Homo sapiens: one gene and its partners. The protein of the gene in region 1 purifies or fractionates together with the protein of each later gene. This does not show direct contact. Each region holds a gene or a part of one and is shown in the gene's direction. Other genes may lie near its edges.

The links.
Region 2: the proteins of COG5 (region 1) and ANKRD22 purify together in Homo sapiens (co-immunoprecipitation; one large-scale study listed by IntAct). This does not show direct contact.
Region 3: the proteins of COG5 (region 1) and LPAR1 purify together in Homo sapiens (co-immunoprecipitation; one large-scale study listed by IntAct). This does not show direct contact.
Region 4: the proteins of COG5 (region 1) and POC1A purify together in Homo sapiens (co-immunoprecipitation; one large-scale study listed by IntAct). This does not show direct contact.
Region 5: the proteins of COG5 (region 1) and IFFO1 purify together in Homo sapiens (affinity purification with mass spectrometry; 2 studies listed by BioGRID and IntAct, with this or other methods). This does not show direct contact.
Region 6: the proteins of COG5 (region 1) and PCDHA4 purify together in Homo sapiens (affinity purification with mass spectrometry; one large-scale study listed by BioGRID and IntAct). This does not show direct contact.
Region 7: the proteins of COG5 (region 1) and SCN2B purify together in Homo sapiens (co-immunoprecipitation; one large-scale study listed by IntAct). This does not show direct contact.

What each region holds. Positions count from the first base shown.
Region 1 is NC_000007.14:107,231,921-107,235,420, reverse strand, and holds part of COG5 (conserved oligomeric Golgi complex subunit 5), read left to right. Parts: intron 1-1,208; exon of another isoform or gene 1,209-1,339; intron 1,340-3,500.
Region 2 is NC_000010.11:88,845,345-88,848,844, reverse strand, and holds part of ANKRD22 (ankyrin repeat domain-containing protein 22), read left to right. Parts: intron 1-3,500.
Region 3 is NC_000009.12:111,031,971-111,035,470, reverse strand, and holds part of LPAR1 (lysophosphatidic acid receptor 1), read left to right. Parts: intron 1-3,500.
Region 4 is NC_000003.12:52,078,075-52,081,423, reverse strand, and holds part of POC1A (POC1 centriolar protein homolog A), read left to right. Parts: intron 1-3,349.
Region 5 is NC_000012.12:6,549,543-6,553,042, reverse strand, and holds part of IFFO1 (non-homologous end joining factor IFFO1), read left to right. Parts: intron 1-1,539; exon of another isoform or gene 1,540-1,645; intron 1,646-2,041; coding exon 2,042-2,102; intron 2,103-2,252; coding exon 2,253-2,348; intron 2,349-3,146; coding exon 3,147-3,287; intron 3,288-3,500. UniProt on the Homo sapiens protein: Nuclear matrix protein involved in the immobilization of broken DNA ends and the suppression of chromosome translocation during DNA double-strand breaks (DSBs).
Region 6 is NC_000005.10:140,805,712-140,809,867, forward strand, and holds the start of PCDHA4 (protocadherin alpha-4 isoform 1 precursor), read left to right. Parts: upstream 1-1,356; 5' UTR 1,357-1,476; coding exon 1,477-3,861; coding exon of another isoform or gene 3,862-3,873; exon of another isoform or gene 3,874-4,156. UniProt on the Homo sapiens protein: Calcium-dependent cell-adhesion protein involved in cells self-recognition and non-self discrimination. Thereby, it is involved in the establishment and maintenance of specific neuronal connections in the brain.
Region 7 is NC_000011.10:118,164,473-118,166,639, reverse strand, and holds part of SCN2B (sodium channel regulatory subunit beta-2 precursor), read left to right. Parts: 3' UTR 1-2,167. UniProt on the Homo sapiens protein: Regulatory subunit of multiple voltage-gated sodium (Nav) channels directly mediating the depolarization of excitable membranes.

The sequences.
Region 1 (3,500 bases):
GTAAAATCATTTTTAAGCCTTTCAAAGCTGTTAGCTTTACTAGTCCAAATAGTTACTGAAATGAATTCTTCATAGCAATTTGCCAGATCCTCCCCACTTATAAAGATAAATGTTAATGTCAATATTTATTCTTGTGTGTATCCGGGAGTGTGTCTTGCTTCATTATTTCTACATGGAGGAAAGGACCTGGACAGACTGCTTGTATCAAGTCAGTGGTTGTCAGGTGCTCCCTCAGACTTGACACACTTTCAAAAAAGGAACAGGTAACACAAACCTAAACTTTCAAGAGCCTGTTTCATTGCAAATTGACTGATGCAGCAGTTAGTCATTTTCATCTCCAAATAATATTCCTGGGACCATTAGACCATAGAAATGAGCCTTCATTTGGAAAATATGCTTGTAGTAGCCACAGCATAAAAACAGAGATTAAACGTTACCATTAATATGGCTCTTTTTACCTTTTACATTTTATGAACTTCATTCTTAGGCACCTGTACATTTAACTTTGTTTTACAGGTACACTTGGCTTAAAGAAAGTTATTTGTAAATAGTGTCTTATTTGTCCCTTACTGGGGTTCCAGATTGCTTATTAAAAACCTGATGATGTACTAGAACCTCCTCTTATTTGTTTAAAAAAAAAAAGTGTGAACTATACTCAGATGGTCTCTGTTCTCCTCTTCCCCTTTCCTCCTTAATTTTGTTTTTCTTTTTGTTTCATCTTCTTTCCCTGGGCTCTCTCCCCTACCAGCTTATTTGCATTCTGCTCCAGCTGGTTCTTGAGTCACTTTCCTGGAGGCAGCACTTCAAGTCCAATTAGAGTGGCAGCCGAGCAGGAGATGGCCAAAACGAGAGTGCTGTAGGAGAGAGGCTTGTTTTTGTTTTTTATTTTAATATGTTCCCTTATGGGTCCTGAAAGATGGAAAGTATTGTCCTTTAACCCTTGCTACTGCCGCTAACACCTGCTCAAAATGCATAGCATCCAGAGGCAGGGGTGAGCTTCCACCTTTCAAAAAACTGCATTATTCAAAATGTTATTTGGCATCCTTTTTTCTTAAGACATGTTGTCTAATAAGCCAAACTTTTCTGGGTCCCTTCCCTTAAGGTAAATTAAACTCATCAGTCATTATTACTAACTTATGCTCAAAGGCCTCTTGTTTCCTGTTTTTTAAACATAGAAGAAGCATTTACACACACAGCATTTACTCACTGTTAAGCCCTGCAGTGACATTTGGTTGCAGCAGGCAGTGTGGTATTGAAAAGCAGATTCCTTTGTTCACCCCTGTACAGTGTGTCCCAGTTTCAAAACATCCTGACACTCACCTTGGGGATGGCTCCAGTCCTGTGGATCATGGGTACAGAAAAGACAGGCGGAGGCACTATCATAATTAATCATATCTGTGATCATTATCTTTGGCAAATATTGTTCTACTGTTATGTCATGGTCTCCCCCACCCACTTTTTAAATTAAAATTAAAATTTCAAGGTTTTATTTCGTTTGGTTTGGTTTCTTGCCACAATTGCAATTATTTGTTGTACCTCAGCTTTTAGCATCACATTTGGTTGAAAGTGTTTTTCGAGGGTCAGTCAAAACATTTAAATAGCATTACTCTAACATTTATATTCATGACAGGCATCAACTGGGGACTAGAGGGCTTTTCAACTGCCTTATTACTGAAAGTTCTATCAATTCATATTCAAAATTAAAGCCATTGAGGTCACTGAAATCAAAAATACACAAATACTCCATGGGTTTAAAAACTGTTCTTGTGATAAAAGTGCCTGCCATTCTAGCATAAATAACAAAAAGAGCTCAAGAAGGGACCTATAGACCAGGTTTGGGAATACTAGTTATTTGCCGTAAAGTCCAATTGCAAAGAGAGATAATGACGTATTTTCAGGATTTCTTTAAGAATCCTAACTTCTCCTCACTGGCACCAGTGCAGGAAAGAGAAAGTAGTTGCAGGGTGCCATCTGGAGGGATCATGGTGAGGGAAGTACCTGACATCCAGCCCCCTTAGGAATCCAGGTCATGGGCACGAGGTGGTTTCCTACAGGTAATTAATTCCCCACTGTGACCACATGGTCTCAGTGCCTACACTGATCACACAGCAGTTCTGAAATCACTAAGCCTGTCCACGACACTGGGGTTCTGCTGATTCTGAATCTCACTGGGATCTTGCCCACAGTGTCCTCTGAAGCACATACTCCCCCTCCACCCCTCAGTTTATTTTCTTAGCTGAAGGAAAGAGTGGCTATTGAAGTTGGTATTAAATTATTTAGTGGTACTTCTAGCAATTTCTATTTATAGGTCTTCTGGTGCCCTTTAAGCATACATTTATATCTATTTCACTTTGTGCCTAAAAATATTAATTTAGAAAAGAAAACAAGACAATCAAAATTCTAATTTTTGTTCTAATTCCTATTGCCTTTTCTTCTCCTGAACAATGTCAGGGCAGGAGTACCCTAGGAGTATCCAAAGAAGTCCTGTGGTTAACCAAATGTCTGTGGTAGGGAAGGAACAGCTATGTAATTAGTTCACCGTGCCTGCAGCTGACCGCTCATTCTCTCCAAACGGGGGCTGGAGAGAAGCAGTTGCACATGCCACTTTTGTATCCGCTGCTAATGGCAGAGTCACCTCCTCTTACCACAACACTCTTGCCCTTTAAAACATGGCCTTTATTGTTTAATGGAATTCTGGAAGAAGAAAATGATTTACAATATCCTAGAGGTCCTTTATGGATAAAAAAATTTTATTTTAAACATTAAACATTTTGAAATTGTCCTGCGGCATAGAAATCTTTTGCATAATCATACATTTTCCAGCCATTCGAGGTCATATTTTCTCATATCGTAACTTTTTCCTAGCCATTTATTTGTTTTAACATTTGGTCCTGCTCAAGTGCTAAGGCAAAGGTTGTCTTTGAAGACAGTGATTCCACTAGAGTAGTTGAGAAATTGACAAAAACACTTCGTGAAAAATATATAATTTCAGTATGTAAAAAACCATTATATAGAGAGAGGTATTTGAATGGAATTATATCAAAGATACAGTGATAATCACATTTTTCCTTTGTGCTCAGTGTAAAGTAAGTGACACATATGGAAAGAAAACAGAAATTCCTACCCAGTGAATAAATGAAACAGGTTCCAAAGAACAGCCTATCACCTACTGTCTTTTGAGTTGGGCACACTGGCTCACAGCTGTTCTGTTTTGCATTGTTGGCAAGAATCCTTTTTCTTCCTTACATTTTTATCTTTATATTTATTTATGATTCTTCATTTTATAGTTTCCCAGCCATATAAGGTTTCCTTCTAGGACATGCAGTATGCAATCCATGTCTTTAATATGTTATGAGAGAAATTAACCTGGTTACTGTTCATCCTCAAGACCATCCCAAGGAAGCTTCTCCAACTCTCTCGACACTGAGGTCATAAGTTTGACATAGCACTTATCATTTTGCTTAATAAGAATCATTATGTGTGTATGTATGTGTGTTTAT
Region 2 (3,500 bases), on another chromosome or scaffold:
TATTGGAAAAGCTGGTACAGTTGAGGAGGAGAAGTCAGGGAATACAGGAATAGAGATGTGACTAATTGAATGGCCATTGGACTGAAAGTCAAGCAATCCTATATTTTAGACCTGATTGTGCCAGGAACTTCAAGGGATTTGAGAGGAAGTCATTTAACCTCTCTGAGTCACAGTTTTAATATTACAAAACAAGAGAGCTGAATGAGATCTGGTTTCACATTTAACATCGTGTCATTCTGTGATATGAGAAAGGCTAGGCAGAGACAATGGGGAAAAAATTGCATTCTCACAATCTTCCCAGCTCTCTCCATCTACCTTGTTTATGTATGAACTCCTAGCAAGATTTTGGTATTCAACAACATATGCAAGAAGAGCATCAGGCGTTTTCATCCCAACTGGTTTTCTAATTCTTTCCTTGTATATTGAAAGTAATTTTACAAATTAAAATGTTGTGCTAAGTCACAAAAGTTCAGAGAGAAAATGATAACTTTCACATATGAAAAGACACCAGGATTGAAAATGTGTATACCTTTATTTATTTATTCATTCACCCATCCATTTGTTTAATCAACCATATTTATTGAGTACATACTATGTTTCAGGCATCTTCTAGTTCCTGGTGTATATATGTATATATATATGTATATATACATATATACATATATATATACACATATATACATATATATATATACACGCATATATGTTGGGCATCCCTAATCTGAAAATTTGAGTGGAAGTGCTCCAAAACTCCAAATTTTTGAGCACAAACATGAAACAAGTAGAAAATTTCCTACTTGACCTCATGTGATGGGTCACAGTCAAAATGCAGGTACACAATGCACAGTTTACTCAGAATTAACAAGAGAAAAAAGAATTTCCCAGCCCCTTTCGGCTGTGATATATCTTTTTCTTGAACACCCAGTTTTTCCCATGAAAGCAAGTCCACAAAGGGTAAAAAATGGCACCTGTGCAGGATGAATGAGCCTATAGCAGATTTGCCACTCTGCCTCCATGGGGCCAAGATTTGTGTGTATTTCTCTGTGTGTGTCTTTTTTTGTTTTTTGGGGTTTTTTTTTATTTTGTTTTTGTTTTGCTTTTTCTCTACTCTGTGATGTAAATATACTGTTGAAAATATCAAAAAGGTCTGCAGATACTTATGGGTAACAGTGATAAGAAAAAAAAAGGAAGCATTTATGTATACTTATAACACAGAAAGTCAAGCTTTTGGATAAATTGGACAGTGGTATAGGTATAAAATGTCTGATAGAAGAGTATGGTGTTGAGGCCAGGCGCAGTGGCTCATGCCTGTAATTCCAGCACTTTGGGAAGCTGAGGCAGGTGGATCACCTGAGGTTGGGAGTTTGAGACCAGCCTGGCCAACAAGGTGAAACCCTGTCTCTACTAAAAACAGAAAAATTAGCTGGGTGTGGAGGCATGTGCCTGTAATCCCAGCTACTTGGGAGGCTGAGGCAGGAAAATTGCTTGAACCTGGGAGGCAGAGGTTGTAGTGAGCTGAGATCACATCACTGCACTCCAGCCTGGGCAACAGAGTGAGTCTCCATCTCAAAAAAGTAACAATAAAAAAAGAGTATGGTGTTGAAATGACCACCATATATGACTCAAAGAAATAGAAGGATAAACTGTTTAAGTCCTATGCTGAAGTTAATGAAAAATGTAAAAAAACATTCCACAAAGCTACAAATGAAGATCCCAATTGTGTATTGAGAAAGTGGATCCATCAGTATCACAAAGAACACATGCCACTTAATGGTATGCTGATCATGAAACAGGAAAAGATCTATCACGATGAACTGAAAATTTAAAAGAACTGCGAATATGCGTAGTTCTTTGGCATAAATTTAAGAAAAAACATGGCATTAAATTTTCAAATATTTGTAGTGACGAAACATCTGCTGATCAGAAAGCAGCAGAGAAATTTATTGATGAGTTTGCCAAGATCATCACTGATAAAAATTCTCACACTAGATCAAGTCTATAGTGCTGATGAAACATCACTGTTTTGGCATTATTGCTTCAGAAAGACACTGACTTCAGCCGATGAGACAGGCCTTGTGGGCAATCAGGATACCAAGGACAGGATAATTGCGCTGGGATGTGCTAATGCAGCAGGCACACACAAATGTAAACCTGCTGTAATAGGCAAAAGCTTGAATTCTCACTATTTTCAAAGAGTAAATTTCTTACTAGTCCATTATCATGCTAACAAAAGGCATGGGTCACCAGGGACATCTTTTGTGATTGTTTTCACAACATTTTGTAGCAATGGCTCATGCTCACTGCAGGGAAGCTGGACTGGATGAAGGCTGCAAGATTTTGTTATTCCTTGACAACTTTTATGCTTATTCTTCAGCTAAAATTCTCATCAAAAGTAATACTTATTCCATGTGCTTTTCCCCAAATGTGACTTTATTAATTTAGCCATGTGAGAATGGTGTCCTTAGATCAATCAGTGTAAATATAAAACATTTTCGTAAACAGTATGTTATCAGCAGTGAACATAGGTGTGGGTGTTTCGCATAAAGGATGTTGTATATGCTGTTGCCAATGCTTGTAATGCAGTAACTAAAGACAGTTGTGCATACCTGGCATAACCTCTGTCCTGCAACTATGTTCAGTAAGTATTATAAATAAAGTGACTTTGAATGATTCTGTATGTCAAATGAGAAAAAAAAAAGATGTCTGACCATACATACGCAAAAAAAAGTACCTTCAGAGTCCACCAGTAAGTTGGAAGAAGTTGATATTGAAGAAATTTTTAACACTGATAATGAGGCTCCAGTTGTTCATTTATTAACCAATGGTGAAATAGCTGAAATGGTTCTGAATCAAGATGATTGTGATAATAGCAATAATGACGATGGTGGTTAACACTGTAAAGACTTTGTCAGGGGCCAGATCAGGCAGGTCTTGTAGGCCAAGGTGAAAAATTTAGATTTTATGCAAAACACAATGGAAAGCGGGTAAAGGATCTTAAGAGAGGAATAATATGACCATTAGGGTTTAAAAAGGCCACTCTGGTAGCATGGGAGAATAAATTTGAGAGATGCCAGAGGGAAAGCTGGATCTTGGAAGGAAGCTGTTACAGTAGTTTATGGAGTGATAATGATGGTTGCATTAGACTAATGGGTGAATTTTAGATAAATTTTTAACTAAAAGATTTCCTGGTTTGTAGGTTGGCAGTGAAGGAAAGTAAGAAATTAAAGTTGATACTCAGTATTCTGCCTTAGGCCAGCCAGTGGATGGTGGTGCTGATGAGATGGGAACACTCAGAGAGGGGCAGAAGGAAAGACACATTTCAGGGTTCTATTTGGACATGGTACTTTAGCGATATCCATGAGACATCTAGGTGGGGATGGAAGATGAATACAGGAAATGTACCTTTAAGGAGAGGCTCGGGCAAGAGATAATAATTTAGGAGTTGTCTGCATATACATGGTATTTAACGCCAAGAGAAGGGATGAGTTTAGACATGGAAA
Region 3 (3,500 bases), on another chromosome or scaffold:
AGGACGATCGCTTGAAGCCAGGAGTTTGAGACCAACCTGGGCAACATAGTGAGACTCTGTCTCTATAAAAAAAATAGAAACATTAGCTGGGTATGGTGGCATGTGCGTGTAGTCTCAGCTACTTGGGAGGCGGAGGAGGGAGGATGGCTTCAGCCCAGGATTCAAGGCTGCAGTGAGCTGTGATTGTGCCATTGCACTACAGCCTGGGTGACAGAGAGACTCTGTCTCTTAAAAAAAAAAATCTTAGGGAAAACTATTATGGATGTCTTAGAAAGTTGAGAGAAAAGGAGGTAATTCTATTTCAGCAAACAATTATTGAATTCCTTCCATGTGGTAGATGCAAGGATGGTGAAAAGGAAGCTCCAGAAAGAACTGCAACACAGGGGGGAAAGATGCAGTGAGCCTCACGGTTCATACCGAATATGTATATGCAGTGTTGTGTAACTGGGTGGTAGCTGTAGAGTCCAAGAACTTTGGCATGCCAGGGAATGGAGAATTACGTTTTGATTCAGGGGACGAATTTATAAATGTGGCTTGAAGAATAACATATCTTTTAAAAGATGAATGGTGGGGGAATGAAGACAAAGTGAGAGTGTGGGGTGATGAAGGCTGGAAAGTTACGAAGGGACAAATTGTGGGGGACCTCTGATGTTATTTTAAGGAGTTATGCTACATGGGGATAGGGAGGCAAGGAGGAAGTATTACATAACCTCAAGATGTGGAAAGACACTGAGTAACACATATTGGGGCAGAGTGAGGGGTGCGATGATGGATGGAGGACTGGGCTTTTATTCCATTACAATCCGTGTAACTTATGGCTGCTACGTTTTAAGACACTATTGCCTGTTTACTCAAATTATATAAAGGTTGTAGAATAAACTAATAAGTAGTTTCTTCCTCCCTACTCTCCGCAAATTGATAGTGCTTTATACTTTTGAGAAATTTAATTTAGTAAAAATTAATGATGCTATTGTGTTATAGCTGGACCTTGTGGAGCCTTTTGAACATGTGGGGTTGAAGTCATTCTGCAGGCACAGAGCTGTCCAAGAAAACATTTTTTTTCCCCTCTCTTTTTTGTTTAGGGAAGGGCTTGCTGGTTAATGCTAATTTAAACATGACTCTTCTGGCAGCTGGCATTCTTGACCCTGTTTATGTTATACATGGTATTTAACCACAGTGATTGGGTATTTGCAGCACAGAAGAAAAAGAATTATTATTAGTTTGAAACCGGCATTAATGCCTCTGTAAATGATAGGGCAAGGCAGTAGATGGAAGGAGAGAGGGAAGCCAAGTAGCACACTCGGTACTGCAGTGAGAGATGACATAACCATGAGAATTCTTTAAGTTTAACTTCCAGTAGAAGTAACTTGCTTTCTATATATTTTAAATCCCTAGAGCTAAAGCATTTAACTCATTATCTTCACTCTGTGGGATCCATTTGGGAGAGGTATTCAGGAGCTTTATAGGTTCACACTTGCTCCCCAGTACCTCTGTGTCACAGGAGGATATACACTGGTTTTCAGTTGCATGTCAGAGGTGGAACTGACTTGGATGTCTTTGAATTGCTGTTGAATCTGGAGATGCTAGGGTACCCAGGAGACAGACAGGAAAAAGAAGAGGCTGGGCACGGCGGCTCATGCCTGTAATCCCAGCACTTTGGGAGGCTGAGGCGGGTGGATCACCTGAGGTCAAGAGTTTGAGACCAGCCTGGCTAACATGGTGAAACCCTGTCTCTACTAAAAATACAAAAAATTAGCCAGGTGTGATGCTGGGCGCCTGTAATCCCAGCTACTCAGGAGGCTGAGGCAGAAGAATCACTTGAACCCAGGAGGGAGAGGTTGCAGTGAGCCAAGATTGTGCCATTGCACTCCAGCCTGGGCAGACAGAGTGAGACTCCATCTCAAAAAACTTAAGAAAAAGAAAAAGAAAAAGAAGGTGGCTGAATTTCTTTCAATTACCTTGTGAATTCAATTTAATGAATGATCTTCCCAGCAGTTTGTTTTATCTTCTGCAAGGGAACTTATGTTTGGCATGTTTAATAAATTAAGTTAATTAAGTTGGAGAAGCCCAAGGTTAGTATACTTTATTTTAGGATACATTTTTGGTAGGAGAGGAGGAGGGGTGGCATGGTGGTGGTGATGATTTTATTTAAACTCTTTGGCATTTTTTAGCAGGTTAGTATGATTTCAAAGTAGTGTTGTTGTTGTATTATCAACTTGTGGGGCTGGGCCAAAGAATATTGTCTTAATACTTGCATGTCCCTGTCATCTAATCAGTGCTATAGAAACTTTAACCCTGAAGTCCATGTAAAATTGTAATTATTTTTTTCCAGAAATGAAAGAGAACTATTTTACTACATTCATGGATTTAGGTTATAATTTATTTTATTTTTGTGATACTGTTTTAAAAAAGTGATATAATGACAGGGCAGACCCTTAACTTTAGTCCAGTGCTAAAACAAACGTGCAATAAGCCTGCATGAGGCAGGGCAAGCTGTGTTTGTTGTATTATGAAAATAAAGGAAAATGTTTTCAAAACCAGCATTTTTCTCTAAAAGAAAAAATTTTGACTAATAATACCTGGCCATGGGTGGGATTTCCAGCTGTTGGTTGAAGGAAATTTTGTTCATTATGGCCATTATGTGTGCTATGTCTCTTAGAGTTTAGGATTTGCTATGCTGAGATTGCTACTGTGAACCATTCCTGTTATAGCAAGTTTCCCTATATTCATTAACTTATGTGTCTAAACAATGCTCTAGATTAGACTTTATATCGATCTGTTCTACTAAATTTTCTTCCCCTATGCCTAGGTGGTTCTCTTTGACCAACCCTTAACTGCCCTGATTCTGAAATTCTGCTCTAATTGAAGGATATTCCTGGGTCTTTGGAGGGAGAAATGGTTCAGGGGCAGAGGAAACTTTTTTTCCCCCCATCTCAGGAGCACTTAACTGACTGCCTGCTATATACCAGGCTTTGTGCTAGTTTTACTAGGGGTGAGTGTGAATAAGGCAGGATTCCCACCCTCCAGGAGGAGCTTACACACGATTAACAGATAATTACAATTCAGTGTAACAAGTGTTATGAGAGAGAAGACTTTGCGGGAGCACCAAGCGGGGGCACTTGACCCTCAGCGGTGAGGTGGTGGAGGTCAGGGAATGCTCCTGGAAGGTTAGGATCTGGAAGGATCCTGGGAGATAAACCAAGCCTAGAAGAGGTAAAAAAGGGATCAAGAGGCTTTCTATCTCCAGTTTCGCTACTCCTGGGTAGGTCAAAGTGCCTCTCTTTTTACATCTGGAAAATAAGAATAAGAACTGATATCTGGTTGGTAATTCTAGTTTTCATTTACTATGTGTTCCTTAATCCTTTATATTACTCTTTCTTCCATATTCAGTAGGCATTTGTACCCACCCTGTACTGGGAAGATAGCACTGCAGGAAACAAGATGTGGACAGACCCCTTCTCTCATGGAGCTTGCCCTCTATCATATGACATTAGTAAGAG
Region 4 (3,349 bases), on another chromosome or scaffold:
CGAGTCTGCGTATTATCATCCTGGGCCAGGCACAGGCCAGCGTTGGGGAGGTGCTTTGTGAGAGTTTGAGTAAGGGAAGAGCGAGGGCAAGGGTCAGCAAATTTAAACAGTAAAGATTTTAGGCTTTGTGGACCATACAGCCTCTGTCAACCTGTCGCTGGACCCAGAAGGCAGCCAGAGACCATACGGAAGCCAGCAGGCGTGTCCATAAAACCTTATTTACACAAAGGGGCAGCCGGCCGTAGTTTGCTAACCCTTGGTCTAGAGAAACAACAGAATACATTCGATGGCAAACAAGTGATTTTAAGGCCAAGGCTTTCTTGAGAAGGGCCATGGCTTCCAGGAAATTGCTGGTAACAGAGTAGGAAAAGGGTTCAGAAATGAGCCCCCAGGTGAACCTCGGCAGATGTGACTTTGAAGATAAAACTTCTGGAGCCCTGCTGACCACACCCCATGAGGCTTCCTGACACTGGCCATGAGGGCCTTGACTTGGGAGGCGGACAGTATCGGGTGAGGAGTGACAGTGCCCAGGCCATAGGGTCCTCAATCCGGCTTCCTGTCACTCCGATTTAGGGAGAGAGAGGTACCTTGTTTAAAGTTGAACCTTGTCTTCAGGGGATGGGCCACCCAGCAGTGACCCAGGCGAGTTCCACAGCATGTTTTGGGGCTGATCACTTAATGCTGCAGTGGCACAAGTGCCAGTGAAAGAAGCGTTGACAGTGAAGTGATTGGGGCAGCTTCTCGTGGTGCATCCAGGAGGAGGTTCTTGTCACTATGTCCTTTCGGTTCCTATAATATTGAGTTTTCATGGCTCACATGAATTATCCTTATGACCTTTGTAATAATTCCAAACCTAAATGTTTAGCCAGGTAAGAGACTGCTTTTCAGGGGGAGGTGACACATGAGGCCTGACAATGTGAGGGGGTGGGTGACCCTGGGGGCTGTCCATTCCCACTGTGGCTGAGGTAGGAGTTTCTGCTCATTTAATTCAGAGCAGCTAGGCCAGGCAGCCTAAACCAGGACAGCAGGTGCTGCTGCTGGGTGAGGACAGGGATCCCCTAGTCTTTCCTCAGGCTGCCTGAGTTTGGGCATCAGGGCTGGAAGTGGGATGGGACACCAGCAGGCCTCTCCTTTGGCATTCTTGATGGGGACAGAGCCAAGATGCACACTACCCAGTGCTTTAGTGTGCTCACTGCAGCCAGGCCACCTAGGCTCACAGCCTAGGCTTGTCACTGATAAGCTGTGTAACTTTAGGCAAGTTACTTAATCTCACTGTGCCTCAGTTTCTTCATCTGTAAAATGGGGATGATAAAAGCTCCCACGCTGAAGGTTTGTTGAAGTTTTTGGCACACACGAGCGTCCCGTGAAAGTCAGCTGCCAAGAGAAGCCCACAGAGCAGAGGGTCAATGATCAGGGTGAACCGCCCTGAGCCCAGTCCCAGGACCTCCTGCTGGTCCCCCTCATGTTTAAGCTCCACACCCCAATTACATGGAGGACTTAAGAATGTTCCCAGGGTAGCACCAGGTCCAAGGAAAGGGAATGAGCTGCCTGGTTTCTCCAAGGTCAGCAGACAGAAGGGGCCGCACTGTGGAAGAGTTGGACCCCAGCAAGAGGGAGTTCTGGGAGATGGGCCATCTTTCCTGGCCACTTTGCCCAGGCTGCCCCTCTAGCAGCCAGAGCCCTGGACTCCTCAACCCCTTCGTCAGTTTCCCTTTACCCTGCCCCAAAGCCAGAAGCCATGGACGCTTGTGTCAGGCAAAGCAGTTTCCCTTGTTGACACCTGGCACCTGACACAGCCTGTACCTCTTTGGGGACCTTCTGAGGGGCTAGGACCAGACCTCTGGCCCCTGCTCCCCTGTACAGAGCACAGGGTGAGAGGCAGTGTGATCAAGGAACTGTTTGGAAGGTCAGCGCTCATTTTTCCTTGAATAAATGAAAGTCGTGGCTTCCAGGCCATGGAGTGTGGACCCGGGGAGGCCGCAGAGGTATTTGCCTGCAGAGCGCTCCTCCTCACCCTCCAGGGCAGGTGTGGCCTTGTCTCCAGCCTGGTGAGGACAGGCGCTGGTAGCAGGATAATTCCCGGGCTGGACGGAGCATGAGGCGACGAGAGCAGCCTGCTTGGCTGGGCCCCGCTGGGAGTTGGGCCACTAGGCAGCAGGTGGAAATGGCAGTGGCCTGTGTACACCGAGGTAGCATGTATTTTCTGAACCCTCGTATGGGTATGTGGGGATGTGCTTACTTTTTGTTGTGAACCGACAGGTAAAGATCATATACATTCTGAACAAGGCCACGTGATATGGCTCCAAACCAGTCTGTGCCAGGGGTACTCCCCACACACCCCTTCTGCCACCTCAGATGCTCTCCTGCCCTCCTCCCACAGCTCCCGTGCAGCTGGGGAAGCACGGTGGCACTGTGATGGCCTGTCCTGGCTGCTCTGGGCCTGTGGCCCAGACAGACTCCCTGCAGGTGGCCTGCCAGCCCTCCTGCCTGTGTGTGCCACCAGCCCTGAGTGTGTCTCCACTTTGCCACTTGGATGCCCAGTGGGGCATTTCCATCATGGGGGAACCCCTTCCTTCCCCTTGTAGAGGGAAGGCACACCAGCAGCATTTCAGATTTCCATGTTTCAGCCGGGCGCAGGGGCTCACGCCTGTAATCCCAACATTTTGGGAGGCTGAGCCGGGCGGATCACGAGGTCAGGAGATCGAGACCACGGTGAAACCCCGTCTATACTAAAAATACAAAAATATTAGCTGGGCGCAGTGGCGGGTGCCTGTAGTCCCAGCTACTCGGGAGGCTGAGGCAGGAGAATGGCATGAACCCGGGAGGCGGAGCTTGTCGTGAGCCGAGATCGCGCCACTGCACTTCAGCCGGGTCGACAGAACGAGACTCAGTCTTAAAAAAAAAAAAAAAAAAAAAAAAAGAGATTTCCATGTTTCACTGTCTATGAGGAGTCACCATTTTCTGTGAAAATGAGGTCCTATGCTTTATTAAGAAAATTTGATTTTTAAGAAAAATATAAAAATTTTTAAGAAAGTAGGATTTTTTTTTTTTAACTACATGGAGCAAAGAGTGCCAGACAGCATTCTAATGTACAGAAATCCAAAAAGCATCCTGCTCTCCCAGGCCTTCTCCTGGCTCAGAGTGGGGGCAGCTGGGATCACGTGTGCTGGGAAGGGCCTGGTTGGACTTCTTTCTCCCTGATGGTGGCCACCACGAGGCACCTTGGCAGAGAAGGAACAGGGGAAGCTGAGACCAAACACAGAGATGACACAGCTCCTCTGAAGCTAGGCTGGAGGGGGAGAAACTGCCTTGAGGGGTGTTGGGCCTCATAAAAGCCTGTTTGTCTACT
Region 5 (3,500 bases), on another chromosome or scaffold:
TCCCCTGCCTTGTGCGTGACCTTTTTTTGAGCCCCCATTTTCCCAACATAGGAATGGTCCCTGCTTTCTCTCTTCAACCCAGGGATACAGTTTTTTGGAAGAGAGATATTTGGTCCATGCAGAACACATGGATATCGCTCTCAAATTCTGCCCATGTTAAGGGAACCTTATAAGTGAGACCAGATGGAAATGGAGGTGAAAATGAACCTGTCTGTGTGAAGTCTGGCCAAAGAACAAATAGAACTGTAGTGGGCTTCCAGATGATTCATTTGTAGATTTTTTTTACCCTGTAAGATTTCCTTAGGCTTAACCTTTAGCTATAACTGCCTTACTTAAGTTTCTTCCAGGCTCTGTTGAGCTCACTGTCAGATAGCCCCTCCTGCCCTCTTTCACACATCTTGTCCAGGGTTAGCGTGCCCTTGACAGGCTTACTGTCTCCCTCCAGGGACTCGTGGGCTCCCGGCGCATGAGGGCACCACAGTTCATGCCTTCACATCATAGATGAAGAAACCAAGACCCAGAAAAGATAAGGGTCTTAGCTAAGAAAACATAATCTGATGCGACTGGTTCCCTTAGTGGCCTGACTGTATGCATGAGAATGCCAGGGAGGAGGGGAGAAGCACCTACGGGACACACAGGGAAGGGGGCTGGGAGCCAGGAAGGCTGGGAGCTGGGCTGTGTGGGGAGCCAGCAGGGTGGTGGCTGGGCTGGCTGCCTCCTCCTGCTCTGCCCAGCAGGGAGGGGCAGTCGAGGTGATGTGGAGGAGTTATTATTAGGAATACTGCAGTGCGGCTGTGAATGAGGAGATGGGACCCAGAGGCTGACACAGGAAGGAAGATGGAGGGAAGGGGAAGAAAGGGCTTCACCCAAGGCTTCAGAAGCTGCCCACTCAGATTTTAATTTTCTTGCTGTCTTCTTGGCCCCTTCCTAACCACCTTTCTTGTGTTGAAGTTTCTCTCTTGGTGCAGTTCCCCTCCCTTCTCGGGTTGACAGAAGTGATGAGCTCACAGGAACAGGATTTGAGATGTGCTGCTACGCCAGCTAGACTGCAGGGCCCTGGAATGCCGGGCGGGTCCTAAGCAGCACGTTGCCCTGGCTTCCATCTCTGTGATGGAATAGAATATGCACTGCCTGCCATGGCTGATGAGACATGACAAAGCTGGCTCTGGGAAGCATGCCCTACCTAGGACCCTGCCCTGTGGCCCAGGGTGTCGTCCGGCCCACTTGCAGTCTTAATCTCTGAATTCTGGGCCCTGGAACAGGCTGTGTCTAGTTCTCATTTGCCGTACTCACCGGGCCCCTTTACATACTCTACTTTCTCTTTCCCTCTGGGTTTGAGTGCTAGTAACCCCAGGCTCGTGTGTCCACTGCTGTCATGCTGCTGTGGGACTTCCGGCCTCTGAGCCAGTCTGGTCACCTCTCTGTGACTCCCTTAGAGGAGGCTCTGGGTGGGTAGTTTCTGGAGCTAGTGGGGAAGGACTTTGAGTGTCTCCTACCAGGCTCTTGACCCACTCTGTTGATACACTATGTGTCCTGCAGATGCTTTTACAGGGTTAAATGATACCACAAGAGGCAGGGCAGCGGGCTCGACGAGCTCTGTTCTGGTGCGGGCAGGAGGCGGGAGCCCGGATCTGTGCGACTGAAGGTGGGAGACTGGGCCGGGTGGACCTGGTGGTCTGGTGTGGGCAGGAGGTGGGCAATGAGGCCAGCCGGACAGCTGGCTGAGCTGGGGCCTGAGCAGGGATGGGCATCACGGAGGACCGGAGCCTCAGCACTTGCCCAAACAGAGCTCCTGGTGCACAGCCCGGAGGTTCCGGGAAGGCAGCTGGCGAGCTCGACGCCCATCAGGAAGCACAGAGCCGCGTGACAGCTGCAGTTGGTCACCAGCTGGCTGGCCAGGCATTCCTGTGCCCTGCTCCTCCCCATCCAGGGAACCAGAACTGGGGTCTGAGGCCTGAGCCAGAGAGGTGGGGACAGGGAGCCATGGGGGCAGGGAAGGACTCTGTACCTAAGCTCTCTCCGCCCTTCCCATGTCTGTCAGGTGGGAAGAGGAGTACACGGTGCGGATCCAGCTGCAAGACCGTGTAAATGAGCTCCAGGAGGTGAGGGTGGCGCCCCACTTGCTGCTGGTGCTTCCCTGGGTACCCCTGTCTGCCCATGACCCTGCTGCCGTCTCCCTGTCCCTCCTTGGCATCTTTATCTTCCTCCCACCTCGGCAGTGCCACCAACATCAGGGTTTCTCCCAACTGCAGGAAGCCCAGGAGGCTGATGCCTGCCAGGAGGAGCTGGCACTGAAGGTGGAACAGTTGAAGGCTGAGCTGGTGGTCTTCAAGGGGCTCATGAGTAACGTGAGTGCAGCCCCAGGCTTCCCGAGGGTCGAAGTGAGGCTTCTGAGGCCAGAAGAGTAGGCCCTTCTAGTGTTGGCCTGTTGGCCTCCCGTCCACGGCTCCTCCCCTTCTCTTTGCTTTCCTTCCCTTTTTCCCCTAGCCACCCCTAACTCCAGAGAAAGACAAGCAACAAAAGTCTCGGTGTTGCGTCACAGAGGTGGCGCAGCTTCTGAGGGCCTGGGGTTGCAGAGCAGTTAGTGAGCAGCTTCTGGGGTGGAGGCTCTGCAGCTGGCGCCGGGGCGCTGGGCCGATTCCTCAGCCTCTGAGGCCTCACCTTTGGCGTGGGGAAATAAACGCGTGCGCTCTGCAGGAGTATTGTGAGGGTGGTCATGTACTCGGGACAGTGCCCAGCATGCAGTGTTAGCTGGAAGAGTGTTAGCTGTTGCGATTATTATAGTCCTTTCTCCACTCTTATAATTCCCAGGAGTCTCTTTCTCTCTGGGAATGTAAGTTCTAGGAGGATGAGGACCGCTAGTCGTTCCAGTGAGCCCCCTGCATGTCCCAGGCACTGGCCATGCCCTCCAGGGCTTCCGTTTGGCCAGGGAGCAGTGGCCCGAGCCGCCCCATGCCCAGCATATTCACACAGTGCTGTGGGGAGGCCACCGCTACCCAGGAAGAGGGGTGCAGTCAGCTCAGGGAGACTCCACAGAAGAGGCACCGGTGCAATGTGGTGGGAAGGATGAGGACCTTGCCAGGCCTAATTCGTCCTTGTCTGGAGAACTGGGCGCCTCCTCACTGTTCCCTGGGCTCCCTGGACAGAACCTGTCGGAGCTGGACACCAAGATCCAGGAGAAAGCCATGAAGGTGGATATGGACATCTGCCGCCGCATCGACATCACCGCCAAGCTCTGCGATGTGGCTCAGCAGCGCAACTGCGAGGACATGATCCAGATGTTCCAGGTGAGGACGGAGCTGCCCTCTGCTCTCAGGGGTGGGTGGGGCAGGTGGATGCTTCCGTGGCGGCTGGCCTGGAACGCAGGCCCTGCCTCCTGCTTGGGGAGCCTTACCTGGCAACTGGGGCCCTCACGGGGCTAGACTGGGGGGTAAGGAGCAGCATCAGGAGGGGCATCGTGGAAGCTGTCTCTAACGCCGTCTCTCCCTTCCCCCTCTCTC
Region 6 (4,156 bases), on another chromosome or scaffold:
ATTAAGCTAAAACCCAAGTTTTCAACATTGAACTTGAAATACATCTTAATTGGGGAAATGTCTAGAGACTTTTTTTGTATCTTTAGAAAATCATAGAGGCTATTGAAACACCACATTTTCCCAACTAGATATGCGATCACCTTAAATTAATGCATTTTATTAGGCAATGGAAGGAAGCAAACATTTTCTGCAGGGTAAATATTTAGGAAATATTAGGTAAGTCCCTCTGAGCTATTAAACAATTAAGATACAACTATTCCCTTTAAAATATATATTCCAAAAAAGGACACACATACTCAAATGCTTATAAGAGATAAATTAATGTAATAAATGGCCCACGCGATTCCACCCTGGTGCTGCAGTTTGTAAAAGAAGAAAAAATACCTGTTCAATTGGTTTGATCATGACATTCTTCATGGGTCAGGGAAGTTTTAAGTGGTTATAAAATGGGGTAAATTGGCTTTAGAAGAGTTTAGAAATGATGTGGATTACTTATAGACAGGACAAAATGAACATGCTTGTTTATTAAAAAAAGCTATTGGAAGCAGGAAATATTCAGTTTGGCTAAAATATATAAGCACTATAGGAGAAAATAGAAGCTTAGGCACATTACATACTGGAGAACAAGCAAGTACTTATAAACTGTAAGAGTCAAAATGAGAATACCAGCGTTTCTCATGGGAGCAAATGAGTTCCAATGAATAAAATTATTTGGAATGCTTTTCCATGCAAGCTATTTGCTATAACTTCCTGCTTCCTTGCACTTTCAGCCCTGACATGACTCAAGGAAGACATCTAATTAAATGCTGATGGTCTTTGATCCTTTTATAAAACATCTGCAAATTTCCCTGTCAATAGCTTGTTCTTGGCACCAGAAGTTCCCTAGAGACCAGTCCCCTCAAGTCAACAACACCAGAAATACTAGGGTGAAGAGGGTGTTATCATTAATAAAAAAAAACCCTGGAATTCTTGGGAACACAGGAATCTGTAATGAATTTTTCTAATCAACAGTTTACAGTTACATGTTTACAAAGTGTATAGTTAGGTCTCTGTAATACTTAAAACCTGTGTTGAAAAAATTATTTCTACTGAAGTAAAAGTTGCCCCTATGGCGAAACTAAGGACCACACTCAATCAATCAGTGGTACAATGTGTACCACAGTAGTACAAAATGTATTCCTATTCTCCGAAACGACTGAAATAATAAATAAAACCAAGTAGTTTACAGTAGAGTGTGTGGGGGTTTCCACAATTGCTACTTACGGTTTGGAGCCACATGATGTCGCTCTTTACCACAAAATACATGAGAGAAGGAGGAAGAAGGGAAAATTCCTTCTATTCTTACTGGAAGGAACCATATACACTCTTTGGAGTCTGAAATATGGAGGATGCAGCTGCACTTGACTGACCGATTAAAAGATTTCCCTTGACTTTGAGAAACGATATTTAATCAGAACAAAATACTGTGCACTAAAGATGGAGTTTTCCTGGGGAAGCGGCCAGGAATCCCGGCGTCTGCTGCTCTTACTTCTTCTCCTCGCAGCCTGGGAGGCAGGGAACGGTCAGCTCCACTACTCGGTCTCCGAGGAGGCCAAACACGGCACCTTCGTGGGCCGCATCGCGCAGGACCTGGGACTGGAGCTGGCGGAGCTGGTGCCGCGCCTGTTCCGGGTGGCGTCCAAGGGCCGCGGAGGCCTTCTGGAGGTAAATCTGCAGAATGGCATTTTGTTTGTGAATTCTCGGATCGACCGGGAGGAGCTGTGCCGGCGGAGCGCGGAGTGCAGCATCCACCTGGAGGTGATCGTAGACAGGCCGCTGCAGGTTTTCCATGTGGACGTGGAGGTGAGGGACATTAACGATAACCCGCCGGTGTTCCCAGCAACACAAAAGAACCTGTCCATCGCGGAATCCAGGCCGCTTGACTCTCGGTTTCCACTAGAGGGCGCCTCGGATGCAGATATCGGGGAGAACGCCCTGCTCACTTACAGACTGAGCCCAAATGAATACTTTTCTCTGGAAAAACCACCTGATGACGAGCTGGTAAAAGGTCTTGGGCTTATATTACGGAAATCTTTAGACAGAGAAGAAGCTCCGGAGATTTTTTTAGTGCTCACAGCCACTGATGGAGGCAAACCCGAGTTGACTGGCACCGTTCAGTTACTCATCACAGTACTGGATGCCAATGACAATGCCCCAGCTTTTGACAGAACCATTTATAAGGTGAGATTACTAGAAAATGTTCCTAATGGAACATTGGTAATTAAACTTAACGCCTCAGATTTAGACGAAGGATTGAATGGGGACATTGTTTATTCATTCTCAAATGATATTTCGCCAAATGTGAAATCCAAGTTTCACATAGATCCAATTACTGGACAAATTATTGTAAAGGGATATATTGACTTTGAAGAAAGCAAATCCTATGAAATTATTGTAGAGGGCATTGATAAGGGACAGCTCCCACTTTCTGGCCATTGTAGAGTTATTGTGGAAGTAGAAGACAACAACGATAATGTCCCAGATTTGGAATTCAAGTCTTTATCACTTCCAATTAGAGAGGACGCTCCACTGGGTACAGTCATCGCCCTGATCAGCGTGTCCGACAAAGACATGGGTGTCAATGGGCTGGTCACCTGCTCCTTGACGTCCCACGTCCCCTTCAAGCTGGTGTCCACCTTCAAGAATTACTACTCGTTGGTGCTGGACAGTGCCCTGGACCGCGAGAGCGTGTCAGCCTATGAGCTGGTGGTGACCGCGCGAGACGGGGGCTCGCCTTCGCTGTGGGCCACGGCCAGTGTTTCTGTGGAGGTGGCTGATGTGAACGACAACGCTCCGGCGTTCGCGCAGCCCGAGTACACAGTGTTCGTGAAGGAGAACAACCCGCCGGGCTGCCACATCTTCACTGTGTCTGCGTGGGACGCGGACGCGCAGGAGAACGCGCTGGTGTCCTACTCGCTGGTAGAGCGGCGGGTAGGGGAGCGCGCGCTGTCGAGCTACGTTTCGGTGCATGCGGAGAGCGGCAAGGTGTACGCGCTGCAGCCGCTGGACCACGAGGAGCTAGAGCTGCTGCAGTTTCAGGTGACCGCTCGCGATGCCGGCGTGCCACCTCTGGGCAGCAACGTGACGCTGCAGGTGTTCGTGCTGGACGAAAACGACAACGCGCCAGCACTGCTAGCGCCTCGGGCGGGTGGCACTGGTGGCGCAGTGAGCGAGCTGGTGCCATGGTCGGTGGGTGTGGGCCACGTGGTGGCAAAGGTGCGCGCGGTGGATGCTGACTCGGGCTACAACGCGTGGCTTTCGTACGAGCTGCAGCCGGGGACTGGTGGCGCGCGCATCCCGTTCCGCGTGGGGCTGTACACTGGCGAGATCAGCACAACGCGTGCCCTGGACGAAACGGACGCTCCGCGCCACCGCCTACTGGTACTGGTGAAGGACCACGGCGAGCCCGCGCTGACGGCCACGGCCACTGTGCTGGTGTCACTTGTGGAGAGTGGACAGGCGCCAAAGGCCTCCTCACGGGCGTTGGTGGGCGCTGTGGGTCCCGATGCTGCGCTGGTGGATGTCAACGTATACCTGATCATTGCCATCTGCGCGGTGTCCAGCCTTTTGGTGCTCACGCTGCTGCTGTACACCGCGCTGCGGTGCTCTGCGCTGCCCACCGAGGGCGCGTGCGCTCCGGGCAAGCCCACGCTGGTGTGCTCCAGTGCGGTGGGGAGCTGGTCATACTCGCAGCAGAGGAGGCCGAGGGTGTGCTCTGGTGAGGGCCCACCCAAGACCGACCTCATGGCCTTCAGCCCCAGTTTACCTGACTCTAGGGACAGAGAAGATCAGCTGCAGACAACTGAGGAATCCTTTGCAAAGGTTAGTGTATAACATCCTTTTGTTTAATTTTCGTATTGTTTTTCTCTATCAACTTCTTCGTAAATTTATTTCTAAGAGTCAAATTTCCCTGGGTTAAAATTTTACCTCTTTTTACATATCCATTTTAACTAAAGTCTTTTGGAATTATAGGACATCAGAGCAATATATATTGCCTTCCTTCATTTTATGCTGCATTATTCAATGCATATTAACAGAACTGTAATTTCTAGTAAATTTTCACTATATTCACCCTCTTTGTTTTTGGTAATAATCAACATTTTAGAAAACATTTTAC
Region 7 (2,167 bases), on another chromosome or scaffold:
CTGCCAGTCCCTGGGGGGAGGCAGGAGGCACATGTGAGGGTCCCCAGAGAGAAGGGAGTGGGTGGGCAGGGGTAGAGGAGGGGGCCGCTGTCCACCTGCCCAGTGCTTGGCCTGGCAGTGGCTTCAGAGAGGACCTGGTGGGGAGGGAGGGCTTTCCTGTGCTGACAGCGCTCCCTCAGGAGGGCCTTGGCCTGGCACGGCTGTGCTCCTCCCCTGCTCCCAGCCCAGAGCAGCCATCAGGCTGGAGGTGACGATGAGTTCCTGAAACTTGGAGGGGCATGTTAAAGGGATGACTGTGCATTCCAGGGCACTGACGGAAAGCCAGGGCTGCAGGCAAAGCTGGACATGTGCCCTGGCCCAGGAGGCCATGTTGGGCCCTCGTTTCCATTGCTAGTGGCCTCCTTGGGGCTCCCGTTGGCTCCTAATCCCTTAGGACTGTGGATGAGGCCAGACTGGAAGAGCAGCTCCAGGTAGGGGGCCATGTTTCCCAGCGGGGACCCACCAACAGAGGCCAGTTTCAAAGTCAGCTGAGGGGCTGAGGGGTGGGGCTCCATGGTGAATGCAGGTTGCTGCAGGCTCTGCCTTCTCCATGGGGTAACCACCCTCGCCTGGGCAGGGGCAGCCAAGGCTGGGAAATGAGGAGGCCATGCACAGGGTGGGGCAGCTTTCTTTGGGGCTTCAGTGAGAACTCTCCCAGTTGCCCTTGGTGGGGTTTCCACCTGGCTTTTGGCTACAGAGAGGGAAGGGAAAGCCTGAGGCCGGCATAAGGGGAGGCCTTGGAACCTGAGCTGCCAATGCCAGCCCTGTCCCATCTGCAGCCACACTACTCGCTCCTCTCCCAACAACTCCCTTCGTGGGGACAAAAGTGACAATTGTAGGCCAGGCACAGTGGCTCACGCCTGTAATCCCAGCACTTTGGGAGGCCAAGGCGGGTGGATTACCTCCATCTGTTTAGTAGAAATGGGCAAAACCCCATCTCTACTAAAAATACAAGAATTAGCTGGGCGTGGTGGCGTGTGCCTGTAATCCCAGCTATTTGGGAGGCTGAGGCAGGAGAATCGCTTGAGCCCGGGAAGCAGAGGTTGCAGTGAACTGAGATAGTGATAGTGCCACTGCAATTCAGCCTGGGTGACATAGAGAGACTCCATCTCAAAAAAAAAAAAAAAAAAAAAAAAAGGCAATTGTGCGGAGCCAACCATCACTGCCATTACACTCACATTCAATGGAAATTGATTAGGCCTGAGAGAAGGAGCAAGAGGCAGAAACACTGACTCTGAGACCATGACCTTGGAAGATCCTCAGAGATCAACTAGCCAAGTCACTCACTTAAAATGGGGAAACTGAGGTTCCAACTGACAGAAACTGAGGGTCCTGCCCTCTTCTCTGGCTCCTCAGTCTCCAGTTTGAAGCAACAGAGCCATCATTTTCCCAGTGGGAGGGGCCTCTGTGTCCTGGTCTATGATGGGGCGAGTTGGAGGGGTGGGCTTCTCTAGCCCTGCCCCCTCCCAGGAGCCCAGCCCCTCTGGCCAGGACTGAGGAGGAGTGGAGGGAAGCAGGGAGGGAGGGAGCAAGTGTGAAGGGCACAGCTGCTGGCAAATGCCCCATTCCCTGCCCCAGCACTTCCCAGCCTTTCCAGGAGCTCTGCCCCACCCCTACTCAAGGAGTCAGGTGCCCAGGGTAGGGAATAAGTCTAGGAAAGGGGGTGGAGACAGGACCGTGACAGTCTCAGGGACCAATCCCTGCCTCTGCCCATCAGATTGCCAATTTGGGGAGACAGCAATATCATCTGGGAGATTCAGCTTAATTTGCTTCAATTCAGCAACCATTTATTGAGCATCTATTATGTGCCAGGCACTGTGCCGGGCACTGGGGATATACACAAAGCCATAAGCACTGGGGACTGCCAGGTTGGCACTGTAGGGACCAAGATTAACTTTTTGGTGCATCTAATTCCACCTCTGCAAGACACTGCTTCCAAGGCTACAGTTGGGGAAGATGAAGAGATTCTAGAATCTGTGCCCTGGGAAGGGAGAAACAGCAGGGAAGAGGGGCAATACAACAGGGTCAAGGGTGCAGAGGCCAGGCAGAGTGGGTGCAGAGTGGGGGATGGGCAACCAGCCTGGTAACACCTGGGTGAGGTGAGCGAGTCAAGCCCATCTGGAAATGC